Linked DNA regions of Homo sapiens. The protein of the gene in region 1 purifies or fractionates together with the protein of each later gene. This does not show direct contact. Each region holds a gene or a part of one and is shown in the gene's direction. Other genes may lie near its edges.

Region 1 (3,500 bases):
AGCATTGGTTTGAAATAGCAAACATTTAAAAATCACACAATTAGTATATATAATTGATTCTAATTTGCTGGTGTTTTGTGAATTTGTTTTTATGTTTCTAGCCTCCTTTAAAATTTGTATTAGAACATTCTATTGCCTTACAGTGTGTTGGTTTGGTACAAAGGAGTGACATTTAATACTAGTATGAGTTGATGTAAGGGGTGAAAACATGGATAAAAACACAAAAATTTATTTGTACTTTAAAGGCTAGTTATTAACAGCTGTAATATTTTAAGTTGAGTCTAATGGAATTGTAATAGTACAAGTTCTAATGAAAGAACAAAATGTTCTTTATCCCTTTAGAAAAGAAGATTCCTTAGATGTATTTAGGAAAAGAGGAAAAGAAAGCTGTACTTTCAAGTCCTATAAGTACAGTTTTCAACTAGAAGATTAAAACCCATCCCAAGCGTACAAGAAGACATCAGGCATGAAGCAGTATAGAATTGTCTGGCTTTTTGCTTTTTTCCCCCAGACTGGGTCATGTATCTTAAACGCAAATAGAAAAGAGGATCTGGATTTCACAAACATGACTTCATTTTTAAGAAGTTTCTAGCTGGGCATGGTGGCTCATGCCTGTAGTCCCAGCACTTTGGAAGGCCAAGGCCAGCGGATCGCTTGAGCCTAGGAGTTTGAGACCAGCCTGAGCAACACTGTGAAAACCTGTCTATAAAAAATACAAAAAAATTAGCCAGGTGTCATGGCATGTGCCTATAGACCCAGCTACTTGGGAGGCTGAGGTGGGAGGATCGCTTGAGCCTGGGAGGTGGAGGTTGCAATGAACCCAGATCGTGCCACTGCACTCCAGCCTGGGTGACAGAGTGAGACCCTGTCTCAAAAAAAAAAAAAAAAAAAGGTTCCTGTGACACATTTAAGGTGTGGTTTTATTTGTGCATAGCTTTACAAGATTCCCCTCTTTATGTAAAGTGTGTAGTGTTTCACTTGAATTTGTAGCTCTCCAATTTGTGTAGAAAAACGTAGTGGTTGTGTATTAACAGAAAATGCTTCTGAGAAGTTTATATCTAGTAAGGTCTTTACCCTAGTTGTAGTTGGAAGAGTGTAGAACAGAGTTTTTCTTTCTGAGTGTTCTTTTTAACTTCAGTGTTAGTGCTAGTAGTAACCTTATATGTCATCTCTCCAGAGGTCTTCATCAAGGATTCACATGGCAGTCCTGATCTGAAGGGCATATTTAAAATGTACTTGTCCAGATTTCACTGCTAAAGATTATGATTCAGTAGGTCTAGGATGGGCTTCAGCCGTTTGGGTTGATTGTGATAGCATACATGTCTTTAGTTGAGGACTGCTGGTATTACCTGCAATTTTGAGATAGAGAAAAGTGCAGGAAAATCTTCCTCCAGGATCACTAAAGCTGAGCCCTAGCTTGTTACCTGTGGAGGCATTGAGACATTTGTTCACAGAAAGTACAGTTTGGATTTTTGGTTTTTTTTAGAAGAAAGCTCATTATTTAGAAATTTTGCAATGTTACTTTTCTACTAATAACACAATCATCTTCACTTATATTTTTAGGCTCATGCTGAAGATTCGGTTATGGACCATCATTTCCGGAAGCCAGCAAATGATATAACGTCTCAGCTGGAGATCAATTTTGGAGACCTTGGCCGCCCAGGACGTGGCGGCAGGGGAGGACGAGGTGGACGTGGGCGTGGTGGGCGCCCAAACCGTGGCAGCAGGACCGACAAGGTAATTTAAGACTTTCTTTTCCTTTTACATAATTTAAGGACCTCTTATAAGTCACTGGCTGGGTCAGACTTATGTCACTTTTGGGAACATAAGTAGAAGTAGTAGCAGTGTCTTTAAGAAACCGCATGTTAGGTTATATTTATGTTTAAAGCACTTAAATGCCTTTTTGTGTAGTGCTGTTAGTAGTGTTAAGTTACCACCCTTTTGAGTTCTTTCTAGGTGCCGGTCATGGTGCTGGGCTAGGCATTTTATGTACTTAATGTCATTTAATTCTTGTTACTGTGATGACATTCTCATTTTCCAGATGAGAAAATTCTGGTATAGTGAATCAGGTTAACTCTTGGCCTTTGCTAAGGCTTACCTGAAAACCAGTCTGTTCACTTTGATAATTCCTAACTGCTTTTTAGGTCTCCACTTAATAACCATTGTGTTCCTTGTATAATTCCTCTTACGACACTTAGGATTGTTGACACTTTTTTCTTTTACTAGACTCTTCTGTGAGAGCTGGGATTCATTTTTGGCTTACTTTCTATAATCTCTCCAATGCCTTGAACAGTATGTGGCACAAAACAAGTTCTTAGAGAAATATTTTGGTGAATTCCCAAGTAATTGATAGATTTGAACTCAGATCTGATGCTTGGAAACAACCATAATGTCCTCCTAAATTCTCAACACCTTACACACAAATTTGGGGACCCACCTACTTGATTGAGTCTGTTTTTGATGATTACAGGGGTAACTTACCATTGCCAGTGTAATGATACTTTGTTCCTCCCTCTAAGACCAACCTTTTTTTTTTAAGGTGGTGGTTGTGTTGATGGGCTTTTCCCATACTTTCTTTTTTAGTTCTGTTATTTATACTTTAGGCTATAAAGAGCAGTTTGGATTCCTTTTTTCAGACTTTCAACCTTGATGATTATTGCTACTTAGATATTAGTTCCTTAGCATGCTTTCACATTGGTGCCATTCTTATTTAGCAAGTGGAAAAAGTATAAGAATACTGAACAATGCGAATTCACATACATAATTGCTTATGAATCTACTTGTATGGTTTATTGGAAAAAGTAAAACAACTGGGCTGGGCGCACTGCCTCACGCCTGTAATCCCAGTACTTTGGGAGGTCTGGGTGAACAGATCACCTGAGGTTGGGAATTTGAGACCAGCCTGGCCAACGTTGTGAAACCCTGTCTCATTAGCCAGGTGTGGTGGCACATCCCTGTAACCTAGCTACTTGGGAGGCTGAGGCACAAGAATCACCTGAACCCAGGAGGTGGAGGTTGCAGTGAACTGAGATTATGTTACTGCACTCCATCCTGAGCAACAGAGTAAGACTGTCTCCAAAAAAAAAGAGAAAAAGAAAACAACCCATATTATTACTCTGGAATGAAAATAGGCCTTGGTAGAAATTTAGGACAGGGCTCATTGCAAATACTTGTAGTTTTTTTGTGATCCATAATTTTGTCTTGATACATTTTACCTAGAATTTTAACAGTAGGATTTTTTTTTTTTTTTTTTTGAGATGGAGTCTCACTCTGTTTCCCAGGCTGGAGTGCAGTGGCACAGTCTCGGCTCACTGCAACCCTTGCCTCCCAGGTTCAAGCGATTCTCCTGCCTCAGCCTCTTGAGTAGTGGGATCACAGGTGCCTGCCACCACACCCAGCTAATTGTTTATATTTTTAGTACAGACAGGATTTCACCATGTTGGCCAGGCTGGTCTCAAACTCCTGACCTCAGGTGATCCACCCACCTTGGCCTCCCAAAG
Region 2 (3,500 bases), on another chromosome or scaffold:
TATGTTGTATTTGTGATATAGAGACTCTAAGATTTATCCCCAAGACTTTTAAGAAATAGTTTAGAATAATTTTATATTGGGTGGGTAGAAGATGTAAGATAGGGTATGGGATTGGATCTCTTTTAAGTACTCTTGAACTACTATTTTTGTAGCACACATGTAAACCAACTGATTAAAAATTTTTTATACTGATTGTAGTTTTTCATTGAGTTAGAAGTGATATAACAAAACTTAATTTTATTTTTTTGAGATAGGGTCTTGCTCTGTCATCAGGCTGGAGTGCAGTGGCGTGATCATAGTCCACTGACCCCTCACCTGCTGGGTTCAAGCAATCCTCCTGAATAGCTGGAATGACAGGCATGTGCCACCATGCCCGCTGATTTTTAAATTTTTTGTAGAGACAGGGTCTCGCTCTGTTGCCCAGGCTGGTCTTGAACTCCTGGCCTCAAGTGATCCTCCTGCCTCAGCCTCCCAGAGTGCTGGGATTACAAGTGTGAGCCCTCGTGCCTGGCCCAAACTAATACTGTTAATGTGAACAATTCATTGGCATTTAGTACATTCAAAATGAAAGGCAACTACCACCTTTATCATCTAATTTAAAACATTGTCATCATCCCAAAAGGAAACTACTCATTAAGCAGTTGCTCCTCATTCCCCCTTCTGCCAGCCCTGACAGCAACCAATCCGCAGTCTGTTTCTATGGATTTAACTGTTCTGGATATTTTGTGTAAGTGGAATCATACAGTATGTGACCTCTGTTTAGCTTTTTAAATTTAGCATAACATTTTCGAGATTCATCCACATGGTATCTTGTATCAGTACTCCGTTCCTTTTTGTAGCCGAATACTCCATTTTATGTATATATGGTGATTTGTTTATGCATTCATCCATTGAAGGACAGTTGGGCTGTTTCTACCTTTTGGCTATTGTGAATAGTGCTGCTTACTATGAACATGGCATGTATATGTATTTGTTTGAGTAGCTGTTTCAATTCTTTTGGGTATCTGTATACCTAGGAATTGTGTTGCTCAGTCATTTAACTTTTTGGGAACTTGACAAACTGTTTTCCACAGTGATTGAACCATTTTAAATTTCCATCTTCAGTGTAGAAGGTTTTCCATTTCTCCACATCCTTATTGACACTTAGGTTCCATTTTTTAAAACATTATAGCTATCCTAGTATATATGAAGTGCTACTTCATTGTGGTTTTGATTTGCATTTCCTTAATGACTAGTGATGTTGAGTATCTTTTCATCTGCTTCTTGGCCATTTGTATATTTTGTTTGGATAAATGTCTGTTCAAGTCCTTTGCCCATTTTTAAGTTGGGTTGGTTGTCTTTATAGAGTTCTTTATATAGTTTGGGTAGTAGATCCTTATCAGGTATAATTTGTAACTTTTATTTTACAGGTTGTCTTTTTACTTTCTTGTTAATATACTTAGATGTATTAAACATTTTTAATTTTGGAGATACACTCATTTTTTTCTTTTGTTGCTTCTGCTTTTGGTGTCCTATCTAAGAATCCAGTGCTAAGTCTAAGTCATGAAGATTTATCCCTGTTTTCTTCTGAGAGTTTTCTGGCTTTAGCTTTTATATTTAGGCTGTTGATGCATTTTCAGTTAATATTTGTATATGGTCTAAGGTCCAGCTTCATTGTTTTGCCTGTGTACATCCAGTTGTCTTTTCCTTTGTCTTCTCTAGACTTTTGTTTACTTTTTCTAGGAATGCCTTCTGCTTCAACACCTTCTGTTCACATTCTATCCATTATTCAGACAAATTGCACTCCTACATATGGAGCTTTTGCTTATAGATAGGCACCTTCCTCTAATACCAGGGGCCAGGGTTTTCTATGTCTTAGAAACCCTAAGCATTTAAATATATGTTTTGCTCTTTTTTTCCAACAGTTATAAAAGGCCTTTTGGTTCTTCTAAAAAGTTTTAAGATAATTGAATTTTTCATGGCTAGACTAAGCATTTGTCTAGTCTCCTAGTCTTTTAGATTTGTCTAAAATTGTTATTCTAGCTTTGAAGAAACAGTCTTTTTATTTGCCTTTAAAGAATTTGTAATAACTCGAATGGTTTTTGGATGGTTCGTGTAAAAATACTGTAGGACAGGCTACATTGAGAGGCTTAAAAAGGAGATACAAATAAATTTCTTCTAATGAATGTCATCTTTGTTAGGTATCTGAACTTAGGACTGGAGCTGCAGAAGGACTAGCCAAGCTGATGTTCTCTGGGCTTTTGGTCAGCAGCAGGATTCTTTCTCGTCTTATTTTGTTATGGTACAATCCTGTGACTGAAGAGGATGTTCAACTTCGACATTGCCTAGGCGTGTTCTTCCCCGTGTTTGCTTATGCAAGCAGGTATTGAGTCATACTGATAAATCAAAAATCTGACTTGACATCAAATTCAAGTCCCCCATGAATTATATCTATAATGATATTTTGTTGTTGATACTTTTTCTGTCTTTAGTAGATAAATGATGAAATGACAAGAACGATACAGATTTTATCTATCTGAATTTTTGGCTCTTTCCTAGATGAAAATGCACTTAATGAGTGAATTTCCTACATAGTAGTTTTGAATTTCATACTTTTTCTCTCATCAAATAATGTTCTGCCAACATACTTTGAATTTGTTTCTCAATAGGACTAATCAGGAATGCTTTGAAGAAGCTTTTCTTCCAACCCTGCAAACACTGGCCAATGCCCCTGCATCTTCTCCTTTAGCTGAAATTGATATCACAAATGTTGCTGAGTTACTTGTAGATTTGACAAGACCAAGTGGATTAAATCCTCAGGCCAAGACTTCCCAAGATTATCAGGTGAGTGACTGTGGTAACTGCATGCAGATCACTGTTTTGGTAAAATAATCTCTCTCAAAGATCCCTTGAAATACTGAGGAACTGCATTTTGGTCTTTAGACTTCTGTCTCAAGCATATACCACAAAGCACGAAAGAAACATGACCTTGGGAAATGTGGAGAAATCATATGAAAACAGAAGTAATCAATGCTAACATTTTTGCTACTGAAAAGAAATTACTAAAAATCCACCACCCACACCATGCCCACCTAGTACTGACTGTTAATCTGAAGTAATAACCTATGTTATCTAGGACTCACAGAGTCTTCAAATGTTGGCTTACCTGCTATGCTTCTGGCACAAGAAAGGAGAATTCAAAGACTAGAACTCACCTCAAGCTTTTTTGGCTTTTAATTCAAAGAAGATAAATCAATTGCACACTGACTCACAGACTGAACTTAAGCTGGGTTGTTTTAATCCTTTAATGGCATTTGGTCAAACTTGTTACCATTTTTGAAATTTAATGTATTAGTGATTTCAGATGCTAACAGATTAAGTTGAAAGTATTACTCTATTTTATTTGATATTTAGTGATAAGCTACTCTGTTCAATTCATATGTTGTATATTATTGGAAAGATAAGATTACAAAGGATATTAGGCAAAATTAGGTAAGGGTCAGTAATAGAGCTATTAAGCA
Region 3 (3,500 bases), on another chromosome or scaffold:
GAAGTTTCACCATTACCTGGGCAATTGTTAGAAGTGCACATTCTCAGGTTCTGTCCATACTGACTGTATCAGTTGGGTCCAGTAATCTGTTTCACAGGGTCCCCCAGGTGATTTCGATAGATAAAAAAGTTAAGAACCTTTACTCTTAAGATTAGCCGTTTGCCACCCAGAGCCTTAGAGACAGCTGTGAGGCTTCATCTTAACTTCCTGCTAGGGCCCTGGAGACACAGAATTGGTCAGCCAGGGACAAGCTGTTAAGTCCAGCTAGAGGGTTAAAGGGCTGTTTTTCTTTTGGTTTGTATGTTTTTAATCGTGATCCACCAGAGGATGGAAAATTTCTGGCTTGGACGTCTGGTCAATATATTCTGTCTCTTTGAGAGAAAACGAAGGTCTTAGTAATGATATTAAAGTTTGTTTATGCTTTCATGTTGTTATAATTGCAAAATAAAAACCAAGACCACATCAAATACTTCAGACATTTTTTAGCGATAACTTTTTAAAATTTAAAATTTTATTTTATTTTATTTTTGAGAGAAGGTCTGGCATTATCGCCCAGGCTGAAGTGCAGTGGCATGATCTCAGCTCTCTGCAACCTCTGCCTCCAGGGCTCAAGCCACCCTTCTGCCTCAGCCTCCTGAGTAGCTGGGACCACAGGCACATGCCACTGCGCCCAGCTAGTTTTTGTATTTTTTGTAGAGGTGGGGTTTCACTATGTAGTGATAACATTTTTAAAAATATTTTTAAAGCAAGACCTCATCTTTAAAAAAATATATTTACATTAGTCTATTATTCTAATATCTATAATAAGATAATATGTGTGTATGTTTTAATCAGCATTTATACTGTAGGGAGGTAAAAGTTATTAGCATACAATATGAAGTTGTAGTAAGAAAAAGTTGGGAGATACAGTCTGATCTAGGTGAACCTCTCATGTCTCCAAGTCCTTACCCTCCATAACTACCTCAGTACCTCTCTCACATCAAATTCTACTTGTCTTCCCATTATTCATTCTGTTCTGGCCATACTGGCCTTCTCTTTATGGGCTCTAGAATCTTTTAGGGTCTTTGCATTTATAATTCTTTCTGTTTGGAATATTCTTCCACCAGATAGCTGCATAGCTAGCCCTTGCTTCCCTTCAAGAGTGACATTCTCACAGAGGACTTCCTAACTACTCTATGTAAAATTTCATACACAGCCCATTCCAAACACATACTTCATGTCCCCATTGTTTATTTTTTTCTCTCTGGCACTTAGTATCTAACATATGTATAACTTTCTCCCCAGTAGAATGCAAGTTCTATTGGCACAGATTTTTATCTTTTTTATATATTGCCTAAAACAATGCCTGGCACATAGGAAGTACTTTGTTGAATGAATTACTCCAACATACATCGATGTCACTGATAGTAGGTATACATGTTAGCATTTTTTGCTTTATTATTTCTCAAACTGAGCTAGCTGAGAGGCAGTTTGTCTTCTGTTCTCCTAAACTGCCTTTGTTCTATAATTAGGAGGAATGGGAAAGGACAGCTGTCTTAGGAAATAATTATTGATTCTTTTTCTGTTTAAAGAGCAGAGTCCTTCTAGCTTGCTGCCGGTTAACCTTGTTCCTTTTGTAAGTGCCTGCCAAAGGAGGAATGGGATAGCATTGTGTGAGATGGGGCCTTGTAGGTCACATTAAACCAGTGGTTCTCTGGGGAGATGAAAAAGTCCTGGAGATGGATAGTAGTAATAGTTGCACAGCAGTGTAAATGTACTTAATGCCACTGAATTGTACACTTAAAATAATTAAAATGGTAAATTTTATGTTATGTATATTTAACCACATCTTAGGGGAGAGAAAAGCCTAGGTTCTCAAAGTATAGTCCAGAACCAGCATAGCAGCATCACCTAGGAACTTGTTAGAAATGCGAATTCCCAGCCTCCATTCCAGAACTGTGGATGCAGAAACTGGAGGTAGACAGCCTCATGATTTGTGTTTTAACAAGGCATTCCTCTGATTCACACCAAACACTAAAACACTAAAATTTGAAGATCACAGGATTTAATAATTGTGTCTTAATCCTGAGTGCTATGAAAATCTATTGAAGAGTTTCATAGACTTTTCCCATGGCCTCATAACTGCATAATTAACTTTGTCAGAAATCCTGACCACATTAGGGGTAAAATTGAAAAGTGTTCTAGAAGTTTTATCAAAGTTAATGTTTTACATAATATTTCAAAAAAAAAATAAACTTAACAGTTAGAGAGCCTGCTGTGTTTCAAGCATCTTACCAGATGCTCCCATATTTGCTTTTCCATTTAACCCTCAAATCAACTTTGGTACAAGAAACACTGCATTATCCACATTTTAAATGAGGAAACAAGCTAAAAGCAGTTAATTTATCTCCTTTCCACTAGGTGGCACTGATGTTGTGTTTGCCAGATCCAGGCAAAGCTTTCTGGCATTTATAGCCCTAGAAAACAAAATAAATGAGGCCTTTTATGAAAAAGACTGTGTGCCAGGTAACCACAAATAGAGATTCCAACTTCTGGTGTGTCAAGAGTAAGGACCTCTGAAAATCCATTTTTACCCAAAAGCAATGATAACACTGCCAGAAGTTGGCAGAAGCAACTTTTCCAGAACTCTGGAAAATTACCAGGCATTTGTGACAATCTGAGGAGCATTTATCCAAAAAAAAAAGCCTGAAATCGTGGTAGGACAGCAAGTTTTGTGGAGTTTTAACTTGCTTTATTCCTGTCTTCTTTCAGCTTCACAATAGTCTTGAAAACCAACAGCCTCACAAATCACAGTTACTTTGAAAACCAGCAGCCTTGCAGGCACTGAAGAAGGCAGAATGGGTTTAAGAGTTTTCCAAAACTTCCAGCTGCAGAGAATTGTTACTATTTGACTTGTCTGACAGTTCGCTGGAAACCCCACTCACAGGGCTTATCTTTTTTCACCTGACTTGGAGTTTATTCACTGCAAACAGTGTTTTCCCTGGTGCATTTGTTGAAAATAATCAGCAGCACTTGTTTGACATAACATGGAGTGGGTAACAGCTGGGTCAAACAAGAAGCTGGGGAATGAGATGTCCATCCTGACATCTGGAAAGCTCTGACATATTTCTAGAATGTAATATGTGTAAGGTTGGACACATTTTCCAGGAAAAACCTGAGAGGTCTCTAAGCTCTCACCTCACATTTAGTCTCTGTCCGAGCACGAATGGAAGGTGTGTTAGGCCAGTCTCGCATTGCTAAAAAGAAATACCTACGACTAGGTAATTTATAAAGAAAAGCAGTTTAATTGGTTCATCGTTCTTCAGGCTGTACAGGAAACATGATACTGGCATTTGTCAAGTTTCTAGGGAGGCCTTAGGAAACTTACAATCATGGTGGAAGGCGAAGGGGGAGCTGGCATGTCACATGTCCAGAGCAAGAGCAAGAGAGATCAGGGAGGTGCCACACACTTTTAAACGACCAGATCTCATAAGAACTCACTATCACGAGGACAGCACCAA
Region 4 (4,187 bases), on another chromosome or scaffold:
GGGGCTGTAGGGCCCAACCTGGTGTTGGAGCCTGGTGCCTGAAACTATGGGGACCAACATGGGGAATGGAGTGGGCATAGATCTAGGCGCCATGGAGATTAGCCTAGCATTGGGGTGATCTTGGAGTCTCAGTGAAATGGCTCAGTGATCTTGGAGTCTCATTTTATAACAAACTAGAATTAAATACAGTACTTCTAATAATGACTTCTTCCAATTAGTCCAAACTGGGCTCCCACTTATTCCCTATCATACACATCTCCGTATCGTAAAACTATCCTCCCTGTTCGGCGCGTTGGCACATTCTGTTCCTCCGACTAGAATATTCCCTGTACTTATTCAAATCATACCTATGACCACTGCAGAACTCCAGGAACATGACCATCCCATCTAAACCCCTGCGTTCAGAGACTTGACCAAACTCTAGCAAGCTTTAGCAGCATAAGGCCCTGTGCCCAGGGCGACTGCCTCAGAAAGCTTAACTACGTGATGTAACCAGCACACAACTGATGATAGGTCTCTGACATCCCTTTCTTAGAACGTTTACTAAAGGGCTTGCAATTGTAAAGACTTATTTCTTGCCACTCAGAAGTTCTCTCTCAAGGACCAGAGAGTCATTCCTTTGAAATGTAATCGAGAAGGATAAAATCCTCCGTAGGAGGATAGAATCCTGCGGTAACTGTTAAAACGCGCGCACACACAAACACACAGCTGGCCTAATCACATTTACACTAACAACTCTGTAGGTTCACTTTCTCTACTGAGCGCCCGCATATCCCCTTTCTCCTTTTAAAACGTCCCTTTAAAAATGCCCAGATGATCTCTGCACGAATCGAAATAGAGCTCAGCTCTTTCCTGTCAGTAGTTAACTGAATGTTTTCACCGCTTTAACGTCCAGCTGCGCTTATCTTTGACATCGACTACCTAAGGTCTACCTTTAGTCCCACGACTCTGACAAAATGATCTCAATATTGGTGTAAAATCACCTCCCCTTTCAAGGGTCTTCCAAAGCACTTCCTGTCTGCGGCATACAAAATGTATTGGCACGGAATTTTAAGCTTACTGAGCTTTATAAACACGTCACATTCACACATTCAAGACACACACTGGATATTCGGATAAAAACAAACAAACAAAAAACTGGCTAAATACCCATTCCCCTCAATAACTTGGATAAGATACCTAAAAAAGGTCGACCTTCGGTACCTTTCTGTCTTCTCCCCTCTCGCTATTTGCCTACACTGGCTTCCTCACCTCCACTTTTTCTCACGTTTATCTGAGCGAAAACAAGCACGGTTCGGCAGCCTCCTTTCCCAGCCCTACCTTTGTGCTGCAAAAGCGAAAATTCAAAAGCCAAGTACAATAGGAGACCGCCCACCCTGGCTCCCTCGTGACACGAGGGAGCGCGAAGCGGAGGGCGCCTCGCGGCAGGAGCGGGATTTCCGGGGTCACGGGAACCGGCAGGGGAACGGGATAAAGTTCCCGGAGAAAGGAAAGGAGAGCGTGGGATAGTAAAAGAGAAGACGCGGAGAAGAGGAGAGGACCTACAAGAACGGAGGACAGGGGCGCACGATGGTCCCGGGGGGAGCGGAAACAAAGGCACGCAAAACGGAAAAGCGTGTGTAGGGGAGCGGAAAAGGAAGTCACCACCGTGGCCTGCGACGGTAAGTGGTCGTAAGGGTTGGTCTTAGCGCTTCAGTTTAGTGTTGTCAGTGGGAGAATCCTAAAATGTCGCCGTGGAATGGACTGTACCGCTCGCTTCTCCAAACGTGTCCCAGACGGCGAGCCTCCCCGGCTCCGCGGCTTGTCCCTTGCAAGCGCCGCGCAGGCCTGCCCCGCGCTGGACGTGGAGACGCGGTGCCGAGCGCCACGGGCCGGCTGTGCGCCGGCCGGGGAAAGAGGGCGAGGGGAAGAGATGAATCGGTCTTCCCAGAGCGCGCCGCGAGGTCGCGAGATTACACTTTAAAAAGCATGAGGAGGCTTGCTTTCTACATGCTGATTTAATTTCGGAATACATTCGAGGCCCTGTGCTAAGTTAGGTAATGTTCCCTATAATTGTCTTTTATGTATAAGTTGTCTTGCCTAACTAAAACTTTTCTTACTTGTATCGTGCAGCCAACTTTTCAAGAACGAAAGATGAGCAACTCCTTTCTGGTAGAGGTTCTTTCATTGGAGAATTTTTGAGCTACAATAATCCTTTTAACGCTGCGCACACATACAGGGATTACACGTGTAGGGGATTAAAAACACAGTTAAGTTTAGGTTGAAGGTGCTGTTAAGGACTTCAGGCAACATTAAATCAACACTCAGTTCTTTGCTCTGTTCCACATCTGGGCTCCTGTATAGCAGTTGTTGCTCTAGGTGCTAGAGGTATGCAGAGGAACTGGACAAGGGCAAGGAAAACAAAGGGCTCCTTCTTTAGAAGAGCTAGCATTCTCTTGGAACAGACAAGCTTGTGGTGAGAAGTATATTTGTGAAATCTACGAGGGGAGGGAGCAGCGCAGTAATAGAACGGGCGATCCTTTCTTGATTTTTTATTGGGTTCTGGCCTGAAAGGCGACTGTATAATCAGCTGGGATTCCTGCAATGATTAACATTCCAGGAAGGGAAGCCAGCCTGTGAAGAAGCATGGCATTGAAACAGGGTGAGTTGTGAGGATTATAAACAGGGTAGTTGGAGAGTTGATTTGTGGCCAGATTCTTAAGCCCCTGTTTAGTCTTAAGAATATTATCTTTAGGCACTGCAAATGCCCTCTTGCAGCTAAGACTAATGGGAAGAACTGGTTAAAAAACTAATTACAGCAAAGAGTGAGTGAGAGTGGTGATGAGAGATACAGATGTTCTGAGAGCAGACAATAAGGGGACTTTATGTAGTCCTATGTTAGAGGAGATGATTTGAAGTTACTCTGAGGAAGACAAAAATGTAACAGGTAGATCGCATATGCGAAAGCTTGAGATGGCGAAAAAATCAAAAGGATTTCAGGAACTGAAAGTTGTGCATTTTGGCTGTGTGAGGGAGAGAGTTGTGGGTGGCATGTAATGAACCTTGAAAGGTAGTTTATGTTATGACAGCCTACAACCGAATCAGAACTTTTACAAACAGGCGATATACAGACAGTCTGAAATCAAATGCTTCTGATTTCTATTACGTGCTCTAGGCTAATTGTTTTCTTTTTAAGTATGAGTTTGCGTTAGTCTTCTGGATTTAGTGATTACAGTATAAGGTGAAACAGGTAAAGGCTTTTAGAGAACATCTCACTTATTTCCTGTGCACTAAAGGGAAACAGATCACCTTTGCAGAACTTGAAAAAAATGGGAAGTGCGACCTTTGATCTCAGATGGACTTTCTTTCCTCTTTTCAGTGGCTTGGTAGTGAGCTTGTTCAGCTCCACTGAATCTTCTTTGTGGTGGGGCTGCAAGACATCCTGCATGGCAAGTTTTAAACATAAGTTTTACCCCGAAGAAAGCTTATAAAATTGTAAATGCTTCAGAACCTTTTCATCTTCCTGTGATTCTGGAAGAAATCCAAAAAAAACCAATCGTTTAACTACATACTTCTACAGAACCTGAATCTTAAGCTTTGTTCACTTTATACTATTAGATACTATAGTAGGTTAATAATGACTAACACCTTGTCATCTCATCACTGAGCTTTTGTCTAAGATAGTCTCTGAATTTAGAACTGGGACGAAAGTGTACATAATAGGCTATTATAAAATTTTTAGAATTGGATTTCTAAACTTGGGGTCAGTGAATCTAGCAGGCTTAAGCAGTGTTCTCAGGTTTTTCTGGCACAGACAAGGAATATAAGAGGAGGAGAGAAAAGGAGAGACAGTAGTGGGAGGGAATAGAATGAGAGAAGATAGAAAATATGGAATTAATAGAGAAAGGATACATGAAGTATTACAAGATTTTCTTGGAAAAATTGGCATTTCAGTGATGGATCAAAGATGTCTAATGAGGCAAAATACTACTATTACTTAAATATTTAATGTTTTAAAGATTTGAGGATAAAAGGATATAGATCTGATGGCGTTCATACTAATTGCTGTAGTGTTGATGTTGGAGAGAGGGGTAATGTATCAAGACAGAGCAGACAGACCCTTTACAATGAGAGCAGAAGATATGTTGTTTACTGATTCTACTTTCCCACAAAATGCTAATGCTTTTATAAGTCCCTCCTCCTTATTT

The links.
Region 2: the proteins of SERBP1 (region 1) and NCAPG purify together in Homo sapiens (affinity purification with mass spectrometry; 2 studies listed by BioGRID and IntAct, with this or other methods). This does not show direct contact.
Region 3: the proteins of SERBP1 (region 1) and FAM162A purify together in Homo sapiens (affinity purification with mass spectrometry; 2 studies listed by BioGRID and IntAct, with this or other methods). This does not show direct contact.
Region 4: the proteins of SERBP1 (region 1) and ECHDC1 purify together in Homo sapiens (affinity purification with mass spectrometry; 2 studies listed by BioGRID and IntAct, with this or other methods). This does not show direct contact.

What each region holds. Positions count from the first base shown.
Region 1 is NC_000001.11:67,413,403-67,416,902, reverse strand, and holds part of SERBP1 (SERPINE1 mRNA-binding protein 1), read left to right. Parts: intron 1-1,563; coding exon 1,564-1,737; intron 1,738-3,500. UniProt on the Homo sapiens protein: Ribosome-binding protein that promotes ribosome hibernation, a process during which ribosomes are stabilized in an inactive state and preserved from proteasomal degradation.
Region 2 is NC_000004.12:17,834,979-17,838,478, forward strand, and holds part of NCAPG (condensin complex subunit 3), read left to right. Parts: intron 1-2,180; coding exon 2,181-2,362; intron 2,363-2,648; coding exon 2,649-2,823; intron 2,824-3,500. UniProt on the Homo sapiens protein: Regulatory subunit of the condensin complex, a complex required for conversion of interphase chromatin into mitotic-like condense chromosomes.
Region 3 is NC_000003.12:122,390,682-122,394,181, forward strand, and holds part of FAM162A (protein FAM162A), read left to right. Parts: intron 1-3,500. UniProt on the Homo sapiens protein: Proposed to be involved in regulation of apoptosis; the exact mechanism may differ between cell types/tissues.
Region 4 is NC_000006.12:127,340,810-127,344,996, reverse strand, and holds the start of ECHDC1 (ethylmalonyl-CoA decarboxylase), read left to right. Parts: upstream 1-1,387; 5' UTR 1,388-1,661; intron 1,662-2,589; exon of another isoform or gene 2,590-2,625; coding exon of another isoform or gene 2,626-2,641; intron 2,642-3,337; exon of another isoform or gene 3,338-3,510; intron 3,511-4,187. UniProt on the Homo sapiens protein: Decarboxylates ethylmalonyl-CoA, a potentially toxic metabolite, to form butyryl-CoA, suggesting it might be involved in metabolite proofreading. Acts preferentially on (S)-ethylmalonyl-CoA but also has some activity on the (R)-isomer.